2 linked regions of the Homo sapiens genome follow. The protein of the gene in region 2 interacts with the protein of the main gene of each other region in a biochemical or structural test. Each region holds a gene or a part of one and is shown on either strand. Other genes may lie near its edges.

Region 1 (3,750 bases), on a different chromosome or scaffold from region 2:
AGAGCACACAGCTAACTAGGGGGCAGAACCAAGCTTTAGACCTGAGAAGCCCTGTTCCAGAGCCTACTCCTTTAACCATTAACTAAACTAAACCAACGGTTGCATGCCAGTGGGGACAAATAATGGTAAAGCAAACAAATAAAAAAGATACTGGCCAGGTGGCTCACGCCTGTAATCCCAGCACTTTGGGAGGCCGAGGCGGGCAGATCACCTGAGGTCAGGAGTTCGAGACCAGCCTGGCCAACGTGGTGAAACCCCGTCTCTACTAAAAATATAAAAATTAGCCGGGCGTGGTGGCACAAGCCTGTAATCCCAGCTACTCAGGAGGCTGAGGCAGGAGAATCACTTGAACCCAGGAGGCGGAGGTTGCAGTGAGCCGAGATCATACCACTGCACTCCAGCCTGGTGACAGAGTGAGACTCTGTCTCAAAACAAAAACAAACAAACCAACAAAAAAAGGATGGAGTCTTGCTCTATTGCCCAAGCTGGCCTTGAACTCCCAGCTTCAAGCAATCCTCCCAGCTTACCCTCCCAGAGCCCTGGAATTACAGGCATGAGCTACCGCACTAGGCCAATCTTTGCTTAATTTAAGATTATTTTCCTCTTTCTCTGATCACCTGGTCTGTTATTATTGGCCCAATCCTGTTTTCATTCAAGTATCCTGTCTTCACTTTCATTTCCTGGGTGTTAAGGAACTCATACATCATCCAAATCTGGGAAAACAAAGGCTAAATTCAATTCCGGCTCAGGCAAGGGAGAAACACAAGCAGAAGTTCAGCTTTTTGTGTTTTTGTTTTTGTTTTCAGACACAGTCTCATTCTGTTGCTGAGGCTGGAGTGCAGTGGCTCGATCTCAGCTCACCACAACCTCTCCCTCCCAGGTTCAAGCGATTCTCCTGCCTCAGCCTCCTGAGTAGCTGGGATTACAGGCACTTGCCACCACACCAGGCTAATTTTTGTATTTTTAGTAGAGATGGGATTTCGCCATGTTGGCCAGGCTGGTCTTGAACTCCTGACCTCAGGTGATCCACCCACTTTGTGGATCTCCCAAAGTGCTGGGACTACAGGCATAAGCCACCACGCTCGGCCTCATTGTGTCTTCTGCCTCAGTACATCCATATTTTGAAATACATATTATTTTATTATAATTTGTTTTTGAGACAGGGTCTCCCTCTGTCACCGGGCACTGTAGCATGTGTCTTTCAAACATTATCTCATTTGATCCTCTCCCCAACTCTAGGAAGAAGATACAATTATTATCATCCTTATTTTACAGAATTGGAAACCAAGGCACAGAGAGGTGAAGGGACTCGCCCAAGGTCACACGGAAAGTGGTGGGTCAGGGGATTGAACTGAGGGCAACTGGCTCCAGACCCTGAACTCTCCAACCCTCTGCCACCCTCCTCCTAGGTGAGGGAGATTACATTACTGGGGACCCTGTTTCAGGATATTAAGGGGTTTTCCAAGATGTTTCTCATAGAAAAAAGAAAAAAAAGGGTGTGGCTCATGCCTGTAATCCCAGCACTTTGGGAGGCCGAGGCAGGCAGATGACTTGAGGTCAGGAGTTCAAGATCAGCCTGTCCAACATGGTGAAACCCCATCTCTACTAAAAATACAAAAATTAGCCAGGCATGGTGGCAGATGTCTATAATCCCAGCTATTCGGGAGGCTGAGCCAGGAGAATTGCTTGAACCTGGGAGGAGGAGGTTGCAGGTTGCAGTGAGCCAAGATCACACCACTGCACTCCAGCCGGGCGACAGAGACTCCATTTCAAAAAAAAAAAAGAAGACAAGCAAGATGTTGAGTGTGACTGGGTGGAAGCCACTGACTTGTCCCTGGCACAAGTGTGCTGATATCCCTTCCCCCTCCTTCCTCACGTCCTGCATCTCAGCGAGAATTGGGGTGCCGGGGTTAGCTGTGTGGCCGTCATCCCAGGCCCAGGTGAAGCCCTCGATCAGGTGAGGCCATGATCCCAACGAGTGTTTTAGCCCAGATCCTGCCTCTTCCCTGCTTTCTGCCGAGAAGCGGGACCTCCTCTATGGAAAATATCCAGCTGGGTGAGCCTGGGAGGGAGGAGGTGAGTTGGGCTGGACTCAGGGACCGACTCTTCCCGTCTCATGACTGTGTTTACTGGGCTGGATTTTGGGAAGGGGCCAGATTGCATCAGACAGGGCCTGATGGGCTGGAGCCAGACTGTGGTCTGAGGAGGAGACACAGCCTTATAAGCTGAGGGAGTGGAGAGGCCCGGGGCCAGGAAAGCAGAGACAGACAAAGCGTTAGGAGAAGAAGAGAGGCAGGGAAGACAAGCCAGGCACGATGGCCACCTTCCCACCAGCAACCAGCGCCCCCCAGCAGCCCCCAGGCCCGGAGGACGAGGACTCCAGCCTGGATGAATCTGACCTCTATAGCCTGGCCCATTCCTACCTCGGTAAGGCCCACTCAGCCATCTCCACGGTCCTTCCTCCTCTCCCGAAATCAGGACCCACCCCTCTTGTTTCCTCTCATTTCCTTTCCTTTCCTCTTCGTTTCTTTCTTTCTTTTTTTTTGAGAGAGTCACTCTGTCACCCAGGCTGGAGTGCAGTAGTGTGATCACAACAACTCAAACAACTCACCGCAGCCTCGAACTCCTGGGCTCAAGTGATCCTCCTGCTTCAGCCTCCTGAGTGGCTGGAACTTCAGGTGTACACCACCTGCAGTGGTGAGATGGGGTCTCACTATGTTTCCCAGGCTGATCCCAAATTCCTGGGCTCAAGCAATTCTCCTGCCTTGGCCTCCCAAAGTGCTGAGATTACAGGAGTGAGCCACCCTGCCCAGCCCACTCACCCTTTTCTAGCCAACCTGTTCCTTGGACCCTCACGTCACCCCTGTCTAATCCCTTATCCCAGGAGTGCTATGTTACTCAGCCTGGGACCTCACACACATCTGGGGTCCCACATTCCACAGAGGGGAAGCAGCAGGCTTCTCCCTGCTCTTCCCATCCCCACAACCCTGAACCCCTGCCTCTCCTCTGACAGGGCCTCTCATCATGCCTATGCCCACTTCACCTCTGACTCCTGCCTTGGTTACAGGAGGTGGAGGCCGGAAAGGTCGCACCAAGAGAGAAGCTGCTGCCAACACCAACCGCCCCAGCCCTGGCGGGCACGAGAGGAAACTGGTGACCAAGCTGCAGAATTCAGAGAGGAAGAAGCGAGGGGCACGGCGCTGAGACAGAGCTGGAGGTAAGGAGTCGGGGGGCCCAGAGAGCTCAAGGTGGTGCTTCTGCCATGAAGGACAGGCCGGAAGGTGTGTGATTGGGTGGGGAGGAGGGATCAGGCAACTGTTGTCTTGATGCAGAATAAAACGAGACATATGTTTGATTGTGAGTTTCCTAGTGGCCAGAGCAAAGTGGGAACACAGAACCTTTCCAATTGAAGGGAAATTTGACTTACAGAGACAGAAATTGAGGATAGAGAGGGTGGGTCCTTCCCTGGAGTCACAAATCAAGTGAGTGGGAGAGGCAGAATTAGAACCCAGATCTCTGTCCCTTTTACCACCTGCTTTTCCTCACCCCCCAGATGAGGCCAGACCATGGACACTACACCCAGCAATAGAGACGGGACTGCGGAGGAAGGAGGACCCAGGACAGGATCCAGGCCGGCTTGCCACACCCCCCACCCCTAGGACTTATTCCCGCTGACTGAGTCTCTGAGGGGCTACCAGGAAAGCGCCTCCAACCCTAGCAAAAGTGCAAGATGGGGAGTGAGAGGCTGGG
Region 2 (2,677 bases):
GGCACAGTAACTTCTCCAACTGTGTTCAAGGGGCAGGGTGGGCCTGCCCAACTAACCTAAGGGACCTGGAGACCAAAGGTTGGATGACTGCCAGGCTGCACCAGTGCCAAACCAAAACCCCGGCATTCTAAGAGGCCGGGGGGTACCACGTGCCACCAGCAGGGGGAGCCACGTCATGGAGCTAAACCTGTGAGGCCTGCAGAGGCAGCCACCACTTGGACGCTCATCCTGGGAGGCTTGGCAAGTTCCCTCTTGGCCTATACCACCAGCACCCTGCGCTCCACATAATGGCAGTCCCGTGTGGCCCGTTTCCAGTGTCTAGGACTGCAAACCCCCACCCCCAGGGCACCAGGGTCCCCATGTGGCACCCAGTGATGAAGTCCTCCTCCCCAGTTAAGGCTTCTTGGGGCAATCACTGACTGCCCCAGTGAGCAGCCCCCCCAGCCAACTGCAGCTCAGTCCCTGCCCACCCACCAGACTCTGCTGCCCATCACAGGACACATCCAACTGCCTCCCAAAATGTCAACCCACTGTCCCCAGGATCCTCCCCCTCCTATCCTTGTGCCCTGGAAGGTCTGAAGAAACTGAAACAGAAAAACCAGGCTTGAGACAGCTTTGTTAGAACAACTCAGCAAAATAAAATTCCTGTTTATTGTTGGACAACATTGTTTCACACATACATCAAACAGGCCAAAAAAAATAAACAGCAACTTCATAGACAAAAAAGGAAAAAAAAAGAAACCTTTTATCTTTGGCCTTTTTAACCATCTCATACAAACCAACTACTTATAGTACAGCTAAGTACATACACAAAAAAGTTACTGGAATGCTCGGAATAAGATTGTTTTTCTGTTGTCATTTTTGCTTTTTTTACAAGGTTTTTTTTCTCCTTTGAGATTATAATGAACATGGTCACACCACAAGTAAAGTCAGAAGTAGGACAGAGAACGCTCCGAAGGCTGGTTTGGTCATCCGAGATCATTAAAAATGGCTGACCCTAACAATATGTACAAAAATATAAAATGTAAATAAAAAATACAAACAAATTTCCTTTTTAAAGTACTTTTAAGAAAAAAAGCAGGGCCTTGGAAGTTTTGGTTCTTTTTTCCTCCCCTGTTGCAAATTCTCATGGTTTGGGTTGGGTGGTGGAGAGCGCGTGTCATCTGCGGGTGGCACTGCCCACGGTGGGCGGGCGGGCCTCTCTACTCGAAGGTGACCACGTTTAGATTCTGAGACGGGAAGTGGAGGGTGAATAGGTCACGGCGGCCTTTTTTTTTTTAGTTTAACTTTTCCTTTTTTGCTGTCTAGTCATCCTCGTCGGTCTTCTGCTTCTTGGTATCGACATCGTCATCCTAAGCAGAGAAAGACTGTCAAAGGCCCCTCCAACCCCAGGAGCCCTATCCAGCCCACTGCCTCAGCTCCTGCTGGCAGAGCAAGAACCAGGGACCCCCAGCTCCACAGCCCAAGGCCTCTGGGAAGTTGAGCCCAGCCCTGTTTCCTTCCTGTTCTTAAGATTCAGGACCACACAGTGGCCACCTACAAAGTCAGAAACAGTCCCTCCGCAGCTTGAGCACCTCAGCTAAAGGCAGGTGGGGAGACCCAGATGCCAAACCCCCCTTCTTCTCAAGCCAGAACCCACCTCATCATCTTCAGCTGCCCGCTTGCCCGTAGCTGACTCAGCTTCCTCATCTTCATCTCCATCCTCTTCCTCACCTGGAGAGAATCAAAGGCCAGGTAAACCACACTTCCCTCCTACTGTGGCTCCTGGGGAAATCCCGAGGAACATGTAGTGGACTGCAAGGTCCCTGCCCTGCCTCTACTGCCTGCAACTGGGCCCAATCAGGGCACCCACGCCCACTACACAGGTGGGACTCTCCAGAGGAGAGAGGCCCAAGCAGCTGCACCCCAAAAGGCCAGCCCAATAGATCAGTGGCTTTCAGAGCTGCACGAAAGAAACTTTCAGGTGTGCGAGTGAGTGTGAGTGGGCATGGGCACAACTCCATGTCAGGGAGACCTTCCCTGACTCTACAGGTGGGTGCCCAGGGCCATGTGGTCCACTGGCCCCAAGTACCATTGTCCCACTCCCAGGAGCCCCAATTCCTTCCTTCCCCTTCTGCCAGACAAGGCCAGGAAAAAGTACCTGAAAAGGGGAAGATAGACAAGGCTACTCACCATCACCTTCTTCTTCCTCCTCCTCTTCCTCCCCACCTTCTTCCTCTTCTTCGTCTACCTCATTGTCAGCCTCCTGCTCCCCATTTTCCTCATTCTCCTCGACAGAAAACAGGCCATGTCATTACCAGCTGGCCCCAGGCTGGACAGAGCGTTGCTCCTGATGCCCGGCCTCCCACCAGAGGCTGGCGGCTGCATCTACAGCCCAGCCAAGCCAAGCCCACCCCAGAGACCCTTCTCCAGTCAACACCCTCCAGGCTCCATCATGAAACCTGCACATTAACTGCCCCAGGACAAGGGCTTTTCCCCACCCTGGGCCAAGCCCAAACTCAGACTACCGGAGTCTCCTCTGAACCTATTCTTGTTCAGGCGCTGCTCGAAAGGTTTTTATAAATATTTAACTAGCAATAATCGCGCCTCGGGTAAAGCTCATTGGCTACGATACTGCCACTGTGCAAAGCTATACATATACACATACACACACATATATAGGTATGTTTAAAGTAGA

What was found. The genes of interacting proteins can lie anywhere in the genome.
Region 1: the proteins of PTMA (region 2) and NUPR1 interact in a biophysical measurement, tested with the Homo sapiens proteins (one study listed by IntAct).

What each region holds. Positions count from the first base shown.
Region 1 is NC_000016.10:28,537,473-28,541,222, reverse strand, and holds the start of NUPR1 (nuclear protein 1), read left to right. Parts: upstream 1-2,248; 5' UTR 2,249-2,315; coding exon 2,316-2,427; intron 2,428-3,013; coding exon of another isoform or gene 3,014-3,067; coding exon 3,068-3,204; 3' UTR 3,205-3,217; intron 3,218-3,553; 3' UTR 3,554-3,750. UniProt on the Homo sapiens protein: Transcription regulator that converts stress signals into a program of gene expression that empowers cells with resistance to the stress induced by a change in their microenvironment.
Region 2 is NC_000002.12:231,711,479-231,714,155, reverse strand, and holds the end of PTMA (prothymosin alpha), read right to left. Parts: intron 2,632-2,677; exon of another isoform or gene 2,548-2,631; intron 2,270-2,547; coding exon of another isoform or gene 2,267-2,269; coding exon 2,173-2,266; intron 1,714-2,172; coding exon 1,640-1,713; intron 1,353-1,639; coding exon 1,305-1,352; 3' UTR 605-1,304; downstream 1-604.